2 linked regions of the Homo sapiens genome follow. The protein of the gene in region 1 purifies or fractionates together with the protein of each later gene. This does not show direct contact. Each region holds a gene or a part of one and is shown in the gene's direction. Other genes may lie near its edges. The genes, in order: MAP2K2 and TUBA1C.

Region 1 (3,595 bases):
AACTCCCGTGCTCAAGTGATCCTCCCACTCAGCCTCCTGAGCAGCTGGGGCTACCGATGTGTGCCACCAAGCCCAGCTAGTTTTTGTGTGTGGGTTTTGTTTTTCCCCGCAAAGATGAAGTCTCACTCTTGTCACCCAGGTTGGAGTGCAGTGGTACGATCTCGGCTCACTGCAACCTCCGCCTCCCAGGTTCAGGGAATTCTCCTGTCTTAGCCTCCTCAGCCTCCTAAGTAGCTGGGATTACAGGTGGCTGCCACCACGCCCAGCTAATTTTTGTATTTTTAGTAGAGATGGGGTTTCCCCGTGTTGGCCAGGCTGGTCTCGAACTCCTGACCTCAGGTGATCTGCCTGCCTCAGCCTCGCAAAGTGCTGGGATTACAGGCGTGAGCCACCGTGCCCGACCTGCCCAGCTAGTTTTTTTTATAGAGACAGGGTCTTGCTAATTGTCCAGGCTGGTCTCAAACTCCTGGGCTCAAATGATTCTCCCACCTTGGCCTCCCAGAGGGCTGGGATTACAGGTGTGAGCCACTGCACCTGGCATGTGTGACTTTTTTTCTTTTTTAATGAGGCAGGCTGGGCATTGTGGTGGGCACTTGGAATCCTAGTGCCATAGGGGGATGGCTCTCTGAGGCCAGGAGTTCAAGGCCAGCCTGGGCAACATGGTGAGACTGTGCCTCTCCAAAATAAATAAATAACTAAAAAGAGAGGGGTACTAATGTTGAAATAACTTTTTTTTTCCCTCAGACGGAGTCTTGCTCTGTTGCCCAGGCTGGAGTGCAGTGGCGCAATCTCGGCTCACTGCAAACTCCATCTTCCAGGTTCAAGCGGTTCTCCTGCCTCAGCCTCTCGAGTAGCTGGGATTACAGGCTCGTGCCACCACACCCGGCTAATTTTTGTGTTTTTAGTAGAGATGGGGTTTCACCATGTTGACCAGGCCAGTCTCGAACTTGTGATCCACCCACCTAGGTCTCCCAGAGTGCTGAGATTATAAGCATGAGCCACTGGGCCTGGCTGAAATAGCCATTTTTGAACCAGCTTCTTAAAAATGCTCCCCTGTTGGGTATCCTGGACCTAGCCAAGATGTGTCCTATCAAGTTGGTTGGTTTTTCACCCATACCTACACCGACTTTTAGGAAGATAGGCACCTTGGCCTGCCTCCAGCTGCAAAAGAGGCAGCATTCAGGGGCCCAAGGTCCTGGACACCACCCTCCTGGGAACCCCAAAGGCCTCTACTCACCCACTGTGGGGTGGCCCAGCACAGCCTCTTCCCCAAGGGCACCCGCCCTCCTCCCCCAGCCCTTCCAACCAAGAGGCTTCTCATGTTGTGCTGTCCTGTACAGGAACCGCTGGTCACACGTGGCTGTTGAAGTGTGTTCAGTGGGGCCGGGCACAGTGGCTCACACCTGTAATCCCGGTACTTTGGGAGGCCGAGGTGAGCGGATCATTTGAGGACAGGATTTCGAGACCAGCCTGGGCAACATGGAAAAACCCGGTCTCAACTAAAAATACAAAAATTAGCTGGGCATGGTAGCACGCACCTGTAATCCCAGCTACTTGGGAGGCTGAGGCGGGAGAATTGCTTGAACCTGGGAGGCAGAGGTTACAGTGAGCTGAGATCATACCACTGCACTCCAGCCTGTGCGACAGAGCAAGACTGTCTCAAAAAATAAAAATTAAGGCCAGTTGCGGTGGCTCACACCTATAATCCCAGCACTTCGGGAAGCTGAGGCAGGAGGATCATTTGAGTTCAGGAGTTCGAGACCAACCTGGCCAACATGGTGAATCCCCGTCTCTACTAAAAATACAAAAATTAGCTGGGTGTGGTGGCACATGCCTGTAATCCCAGCTACTGGGGAGGGTGAGGCAGGAGAATCGCTTGAACCCGGGAGGCGGAGGTTGCAGTGAGCTAAGATCACACCACTGCACTCCAGCCTGGGCAACAAGAGTGAAACTCCATCTAAAAAAAAAAAAAATTAAAGTAAAAGTATTTAATTAATTTGTTAAACTGAAATAAAATTGAGGCTTTTGTTCTCAAGCCATGGGAGCCACAGTCCAGGGGCTCTGGAGCCTCATGTGCTGGCGAGTGGGACGGTGCCTGTACAATGCTCTTCGCGGAGTTCTGTGGAACAGCCCGTTCTTGCCTGGGCTGTCCTGCTCCGGGGGACCCTGGCAATGGCTGAGGACATTGTGGTGTCACGACTTGGGGAAGCCCCTGGCATGGAGTGGGTGGAGGCCAGGGACGCTGCTCAGTACCCTGCAGTACCCAGGATGGCCCCACGCCAGAGAATGATCCGGCCCCGGTGTCCACAGCGGCCGGAGGACCCTGGGCTTGCGCGAGCGTAGACCCTCCCCTGGGAGCGCAGGCTGCCGTGCTGGTGGTGTCCCCGCCCCAGGTGGAGTGCAGCATCCTGAGACCCCTCCCAGGCCTGGCACACGCCGCTGCCCCTTTCTGGGTTTCTTTCCCTCTCCTACCCCGAGTGCGTCTTCCTGTGGGGAAGGGAGGGTCTCCTCTGTTTTTTGCTTTCTGTCCCGTACCATCTGCCAGGGCTGGGCAGACGCTGGCCCTCCCCGTCCTACTGTGACTCCAGGCCCGGGTGCTCACGGCTCCCCTTTCCTTGCAGAACCACACCTTCATCAAGCGGTCCGAGGTGGAAGAAGTGGATTTTGCCGGCTGGTTGTGTAAAACCCTGCGGCTGAACCAGCCCGGCACACCCACGCGCACCGCCGTGTGACAGTGGCCGGGCTCCCTGCGTCCCGCTGGTGACCTGCCCACCGTCCCTGTCCATGCCCCGCCCTTCCAGCTGAGGACAGGCTGGCGCCTCCACCCACCCTCCTGCCTCACCCCTGCGGAGAGCACCGTGGCGGGGCGACAGCGCATGCAGGAACGGGGGTCTCCTCTCCTGCCCGTCCTGGCCGGGGTGCCTCTGGGGACGGGCGACGCTGCTGTGTGTGGTCTCAGAGGCTCTGCTTCCTTAGGTTACAAAACAAAACAGGGAGAGAAAAAGCAAACCGCGCCATCCTGCTTCTTTCTTCCGTTCGGCGTTGGGTGCTGGGCTTTGCTTCAGCCCAGCACGGAGAGGACATCCCTGAGCTGACCCGCATCGCCGGGCGCCGAGGCTGGAGGGCGCAGGGCCCTCCCTTAGGGAGAGCTCGCCTCTCCCTTTGGGTCAAGGGATGAAGACCTGCAGTGAGCCCCCAGGCGATGGCGGCTCTCACCAAAAGGAAGGAGAGTGAGGCTGGGGGCGGCGGCTCATGCCTGTCATTCCAGTGCTTTGGGAGCCTAAGGCGGGAGGATCGCTTGAACCCAGGGGATTGAGGCTGCAGTGAACCTCGATGGTGCCAGTGCGCTCCGGCATGGGTGACAGAGCAAGGCTACTGAAAAAAAAGAAGGGAAATGCCACCTGGTTTCCCTCTGTGTCCTCCCCGCCACCATCTCTGCCCCTGTGGAAGGCAGAGCTTCGGCCTTCCGTGATGGAAACCACTTCCTCTACACTGCTCCTGTCACGTAGCCTCCGCGGGAAGGCCGCCCCTGCCTCTTCCCCAGCGTGGCACCATCCTCTCCCTGTCCCCCCGCTTCAGGGAGTGGGGGCTCCCA
Region 2 (7,293 bases), on another chromosome or scaffold:
TGGTAATTTCTAACCATATTCTGCTTTGGCCCCTCTGGCCTTTCTAAATTAACTTGGTCCACCTCATAAATATATATCTATGAGAGAGAGACACACACACACAGACACAGACACAGAGTCTTGCCTCTGTTGCCCAGGCTGGAGTGCAGTGGCGAGATCTCTGCAACCGCCACCTCCTGGGTTTGGGTTCAAGTGATTCTCATGCCTCAGTCTTCCGAGTAGCTGGGACTACAGGCGCGCACCACCATGCCTGGCTAATTCTTGTATTTTTAGTAGAGATGGGGTTTCAGCATATTGGCCAGGCTGTTCTTGAACTCCTGACCTCAGATGATCCACCCACCTCGGTCTCCCAAAGTCCTGGGATTACAGGCATGAGCCACTGTGCTCTACCATAATTTTTTTTTTTTTTGTATTTTTAATAGAGACAGTTTCACCATGTTGGCCAGGCTGATTTCAAACTCCTGACCTCAAGTGATCTGCTCACCTTGGCCTCCCAAAGTGCTGGGATTACAGGTGTGAGCCAGAAACAACTAATTTCTTAACCTATCAGTAAAGTCTTGGTAACATTTCTAGCCTTTATTATTATGGTCTTCCCTCTTCCGGAGATGTTTTGACGGTGAAGGAAAAACGTTCTTCCTATAGATTAGATTCTTCCACTTGGTTAAAAAGCTGCCTCTGACCACAGTTTTTAAAATACAGCTAACTGCTGCTTATCCAGCATTTTCTTCATGAGTCATGGCTATAGTTTGCTGGTTTAAGCTGGTTTTAAAGGAGGGAGAGAGAAGCTTTTGTCTCCTAAAGAATAGGATTAAAGCGGGACCAGAATGAGCTCAGTAGTTACACAATCATTCAGAGAATGAATCAGAGCTGGAAAGGGGAATTTTGCCTTAGTTTAAGGAATCATATCTACTGTGGCTACAAAGCAACTGTCTGGTCTTGCCGAGTAGTTCATGAACACATCTTTGGTTTTCCAAGGCACTTTTGCTGAATTAGGTCTTCAAAGATTTTTGCTTTTGAAATTATAGTCCCTGAGCAGGAGTGGCCTGCTGAAAGATGGTTATCTTTTTTTGTTTGAGATGGAATATCTTGTCACTCAGGCTGGAGGGCAGTGGTGTGATCTCAGCTCACTGCAACCTCCACCTCCTGAGTTCAAGTGATTCTCCTCCCTCAGCCTCCCAAGTAGCTGGGACTACAGGTGTGCGCCATCATGCCTGGCTAATTTTTTTTGTATTTTTAGTAGAGATGCAGTTTTGCCATGTTGGCCAAGCAGATCTCAAACTCCTGACCTCAGGTGATCCACCTGCCTCAGCCTCCCAAAGTACTGGGATTACAGGTGTGAGTCACTGCGCCCAGCCAGTTATCTGTCTTGAAGGTTAATCAGTCATTAGGTGTGAATCATTCCTAAATGTCCCATCTGATGTATTATACCCTGACATTTTCCTTTCTTCCTCCCACAGCGTGAGTGCATCTCCATCCACGTTGGCCAGGCTGGTGTCCAGATTGGCAATGCCTGCTGGGAGCTCTACTGCCTGGAACACGGCATCCAGCCCGATGGCCAGATGCCAAGTGACAAGACCATTGGGGGAGGAGATGATTCCTTCAACACCTTCTTCAGTGAAACGGGTGCTGGCAAGCATGTGCCCCGGGCAGTGTTTGTAGACTTGGAACCCACAGTCATTGGTGAGTTGACCTCAGTAACCCAAGTGAGATCCCAGGGTGCTGGGACAGGAGGTCTGTCCTGGGGGGGCTCCGCTGGTCACTCACCCACTCTCCCTCCCCGCTCCTTGTCCCTCCTCCTCCTCCCCCATCATGTTCTCCAGATGAAGTTCGCACTGGCACTTACCGCCAGCTCTTCCACCCTGAGCAACTCATCACAGGCAAGGAAGATGCTGCCAATAACTATGCCCGAGGGCACTACACCATTGGCAAGGAGATCATTGACCTCGTGTTGGACCGAATTCGCAAGCTGGTAAGTATAGTACTTTAAATAAAGTGGGATGAGAGTTTCTTTTGCAGTTCTGAGACCAAACTACAGAAATCATTCTTTGCAACTAAAATGAGACTATTTGCATTGCAACTAAAATGTATCTGTTCACTAAATTAATTGGATTTCTGAACCAGATGATCTTGGATTTATGGGACAACTATGGGGTAGAAGTAAGTGCTCTTTAGCCTATTTTGCTTCAAGCTGAGACACCCCTTTTGAGGTCATCTTAGTCATACTGAGTGAGTAGGTAGCTGACTTCTACATGTAACTAATTGATCAGAGTCATTTTTTAAAAATCTGGGATGGTTCCTTCATGTCAATACAGAAAGTTCAGAGAACAAGAAGCCAGTGTCACACTGACAAGAAACAGCCAATACTGGAAACTTCCAGTACTGCTGAAAGTGGAGTCGGGAGCTTCCTTATGAAGTGTGCTGTTTGGATCACTTTAATTAAGAGCCTGGCAATCAGATGACTCTTTGCTCCTTAGGCATGTGGGCAGCTTGTAAGTAATTAACCAGAGATCAAGCATGATGGTCTGGGCAGAGTAACTTGTCAAGAAAATCACATTGTATTAAGCCCAGCCATGACTGCTCCATTCTAAAATAGAATAGCCTCATCATTCATGGCTTCATACTTTCTCAGATGTTTACGTAGTCTTCCCAGCAAAACTGGACTGATGTTTCCGATGCTTAAAAACTAAGCTTTAGGCTGGGCACGGTGGCTGACATCTGTAATCCCAGCACTGGGAGGCCAAGGTGGGCGGATCATGAGGTCAGGAGATCGAGACCATCCTGGCTAACATGGTGAAACCCTCTCTACTAAAAATACAAAAAAATTAGCCGGGCGTGGTGGTGGGCGCCTGTAGTCCTAGCTACTAGGGAGGCTGAGGCAGGAGAATGGCGTGAACACGGGAGGCGGAGCTTGCAGTGAGCCGAGATCGTGCCACTGCACTCCAGCCTGGGCGACAGAGTGAGACTCCATCTCAAAAAAACAAACAAACAAAAAAAACCCTAAGCTTTAGTTATAAGCACTGACTTGGAAAATCAGGGACCTGCCTTTAGGACAAATAAACCTAGTAGCTATTTAGGGTTCTGGAACGTGAGGTTTATTGCCTACCAAAACAATTGCATTTGTCCTTGTCATTACTGTGCTCACAGGAGGCTTAACTGGTGTAATTGGTAGGCGAGAGTCTGCCCTGTGCATTGATCTCATGTAGTTGATGGACCCACAGGCTATAAGGGAGCTGAGTAGAGAATGTTCACAAATCTGAGGCCCATCACTTGGAGAAGCAAGAGTTTACAACAGAATACTTTATTTGGAAGGTCAAAATCATTCCTTCGTAAAGTAGCAGTTTGCTAACCAAAATAGCCCAGTTAGGTGGAGGAAATCCCCAACAACCTGAGGTCTCATGGAATTGTGGTTGTGTCACTTTACCCAAAATAAATGGGCTTCTTGGTACCTAGTGTCATATATTGGCTTACTGGGCCAATACTGTGCTTACTGTGCCAAGCACTATGCTGAGTACTTACTTAATTCTCAACCTAAGGTGATTACTATTCTCACTTAATCAGTGGAAGAACTGAGAAATGAATGTGGTCATACAGTAAGGAACTGGTACAGCCGGATCCTGACACAGCCTGACTCCAGTACCAGGGTGTTAGAACTTTGGCTATTCTGTTGTTCCACCTCAGAAAGCAGCTGCCAAATCTTTACAAGACATCCACTGTACCAGGCTGGTGGTCCTGGGCCTGCCCCTTAGGACCTCTCCAACTAAGAAACTGCCCTGTTCTGTGGCCACAGCAAGAGAACCAGAGGCTGCCTTCCCAGTTACCAAAACTTGAGCCCTGTATGCAAGCCCAGGCCTTGTGATTCCTCTGCCTAAGGCAATAGTTCATCTTAAAATAGTCTTAGCAAAGGTTTTTCTGCTCAAGGACTTGATTGTGAAAAGTTGTTCTGAATCACTTAGCACTTAAAAGCTTTTTTTTTTTTTTGGAGACAGGGTCTGCTCTGTCATCCAGGCTGGAGTGCAGTGGCCTGATCATCAGTCTTGAACCCCTGGGCTCAAATGCAAATGGTCCTCCCACCTTGGACCCCCAAAGTGTTGATTACAGGCGTGAGCCACTGCGCCTGGCCCAGAAGAGTTTTAAAATTGCAATTGGAGTAGCCATAGATTTATAGAAGTCCTCTGTAGGTTTCACCAAATGTGAACACTAAATGAAACTTTCGCAACACTAAAATGAAACTTTTTTATTTTGCAGGCTGACCAGTGCACCGGTCTTCAGGGCTTCTTGGTTTTCCACAGCTTTGGTGGGGGAACTGGTTCTGGGTTCACCTCGCTGCTCATGGAACGTCTCTCAGTTGATTATGGCAAGAAGTCCAAGCTGGAGTTCTCCATTTACCCGGCGCCCCAGGTTTCCACAGCTGTAGTTGAGCCCTACAACTCCATCCTCACCACCCACACCACCCTGGAGCACTCTGATTGTGCCTTCATGGTAGACAATGAGGCCATCTATGACATCTGTCGTAGAAACCTCGATATCGAGCGCCCAACCTACACTAACCTTAACCGCCTTATTAGCCAGATTGTGTCCTCCATCACTGCTTCCCTGAGATTTGATGGAGCCCTGAATGTTGACCTGACAGAATTCCAGACCAACCTGGTGCCCTACCCCCGCATCCACTTCCCTCTGGCCACATATGCCCCTGTCATCTCTGCTGAGAAAGCCTACCACGAACAGCTTACTGTAGCAGAGATCACCAATGCTTGCTTTGAGCCAGCCAACCAGATGGTGAAATGTGACCCTCGCCATGGTAAATACATGGCTTGCTGCCTGTTATACCGTGGTGACGTGGTTCCCAAAGATGTCAATGCTGCCATTGCCACCATCAAAACCAAGCGTACCATCCAGTTTGTGGATTGGTGCCCCACTGGCTTCAAGGTTGGCATTAATTACCAGCCTCCCACTGTGGTGCCTGGCGGAGACCTGGCCAAGGTACAGAGAGCTGTGTGCATGCTGAGCAATACCACAGCTGTTGCCGAGGCCTGGGCTCGCCTGGACCACAAGTTTGACCTGATGTATGCCAAGCGTGCCTTTGTTCACTGGTACGTGGGTGAGGGGATGGAGGAAGGCGAGTTTTCAGAGGCCCGTGAGGACATGGCTGCCCTTGAGAAGGATTATGAGGAGGTTGGAGCAGATAGTGCTGACGGAGAGGATGAGGGTGAAGAGTATTAACCTGTGTGCTGTACTTTTACACTCCTTTGTCTTGGAACTGTCTTATTTTTGTTCTGTAAATGTCTATTGCCGTAAATTGTTAATAAAATTGAAGTTTCCATTTTAAATGTCGAGCTGACTTAAATACTTGATCCAGTTAAAGTTGGATGTATGAGGCTGGTAGATGAAACCACCTGAGTCGAGGGTCTTGCTCTGTCACCCAGGCTGGAGTGCAGTGGCATGATAATACATAGCTCATTGCAGCCTCGAGCTCCTGGACTCATGTGATTCTCCTGCTTCAGCCTCCTAAGTAGCTGGGGACTGCAGGTGCACACCACCATGCCCAGCTATTTTTATTTCTTGTAGAGATGGGGCCTTGCTATGCTGCCCAGGGTGGTCTTCAACTGGCTTCAAGTGATCCTCCTGCCTCAACCTCTCAAAGTTTTGATTATAGGCATGAGCCACTGCCCAGCTTCTTGGTTTATCTGTTTAATTTGGGCCTGAATTAAGTGGTTATAGAATCATTTTGTAAGTGAGGAAACGGGTTCAGATTGAGCCAGTGCTTCTCTAACTAAAATGGATGTGAATCACCTGTAGATATTAAAATGCAGGTTTGGGGTCAACCTGGTGGCTCATGCACTTCGGGAGGCCAAGTTGGGTGGATCACGAGCCCAGGAATTCGAGACCAGCCTGGGCAACATGGTGAAAACCCATCTCTACCAAAACAAAAATTTGCATGCTGTGATGGCACCTGCCTATAGGTGGGAGGACCACCTGAGCCCAAGGAGGTTGAGGTAGTGAGCCATGATTGCACCACTGCATTCCAGCCTGGGTGACGGAGACCCCTGACTCTCAAATTTAAAAACAAAATGCAGGTTCTAATTCTATAGGCTTGAGGTGAGGCTTCAGACACGTCTTAAATTTTTTTTCTTTGAGATGGTCTCTTTCCCAGGCTGCAGTGCAATGGCACCATCATAGCTCACCCCCACCTTGACCTGGGCTAAGCCATCCTCCCACCTCAGCCTCCCAAGTAGCCAGGACTACAGGTGTGTTCCACCATGCCTGGCTGATTCTTGTAATTTTTTTTTTTTTTTTTTTTTTTTTTTTTGGTAGAGATGGGGTTTTGCCATGTTGCTTAGGCTGGCCTTGAACTCCTGGGCTCAGGCAATCCTGCCTCAGCCTCCCAAAGTGCTGGGATTACAGGAGTGAGCCACTACACCTGGCCCCTAGATACGTTTTTTAATAACCTCCCAAATGATGCTGTTGGTCTGATGTGACCACATGTACAGTAGCAAAGGGTTAGATAACAGTAACTGCTGGAGCCAAAATTCAAGTGCCCAGCCACACTGCCAGAACTATTGCTGTCAGTCTTTAATAAAGTATTAGTCACACGAGAAGGGCTTGGAATCCTGATTTATTCCATACTTAGCTAAGACCTACAGTGGCAAAGATGGTTCGTACTAAAGGGGTTATTGTTTAGAGAAAGTGGAAATGTCAGACAAAATAACAGTCACCGGTTTTTCTGGTATTGGCATTTGACCCAATTGTATGTCATGGAGATTATTTGAAGTAGGAGTAATATGTATGTGTAGGAAAGATTGGAGAGGGGTGAGTTCTCTGATTTGGACTTTTTTCCAAGCACCTGTTGGAGGACCGTGGTTCTTGGGGGCAGACGGGTGAAGGGGCATGAGTGTTATACGTAGCTGGAGAGCTTGGTGCCTGGTACTCAGTTGAACTAAGCAATGGGAAAGGACAATGACCAAAAGGTGAAGCTTCATGCAGAAGGGAGGAATCAGTTTTGGTGCTTGGGTGCTTGCCTGAGTGGGAATGCCTAATGAGTGGTAGCAGATGGGCCCTGGGGGCAGAGTTGCAGGCATACTCACCTCTCCTCCGTGACTTACTTTATTCTGATGTGTACCCAGTTACCATCTCTTTCCCAAAGGTGTTTTGTATCCCTTACCCATTGCTCACTTTAGCCCCTTTGCTCTGAGAATTGCATCTGAAAGATGTGCATGTTTAAGGCCAGCGCTGGGGTTCACAGCTGCAGTCCCAGCACTCTGGGAGGCCAAGGTGAGAGGATTGCTTAAACCCAAG

What was found.
Region 2: the proteins of MAP2K2 (region 1) and TUBA1C purify together in Homo sapiens (affinity purification with mass spectrometry; 2 studies listed by BioGRID and IntAct, with this or other methods). This does not show direct contact.

What each region holds. Positions count from the first base shown.
Region 1 is NC_000019.10:4,089,735-4,093,329, reverse strand, and holds the end of MAP2K2 (dual specificity mitogen-activated protein kinase kinase 2), read left to right. Parts: intron 1-2,621; coding exon 2,622-2,732; 3' UTR 2,733-3,009; downstream 3,010-3,595. UniProt on the Homo sapiens protein: Catalyzes the concomitant phosphorylation of a threonine and a tyrosine residue in a Thr-Glu-Tyr sequence located in MAP kinases. Activates the ERK1 and ERK2 MAP kinases.
Region 2 is NC_000012.12:49,268,008-49,275,300, forward strand, and holds the end of TUBA1C (tubulin alpha-1C chain), read left to right. Parts: intron 1-1,457; coding exon 1,458-1,680; intron 1,681-1,820; coding exon 1,821-1,969; intron 1,970-4,245; coding exon 4,246-5,220; 3' UTR 5,221-6,593; downstream 6,594-7,293. UniProt on the Homo sapiens protein: Tubulin is the major constituent of microtubules, a cylinder consisting of laterally associated linear protofilaments composed of alpha- and beta-tubulin heterodimers.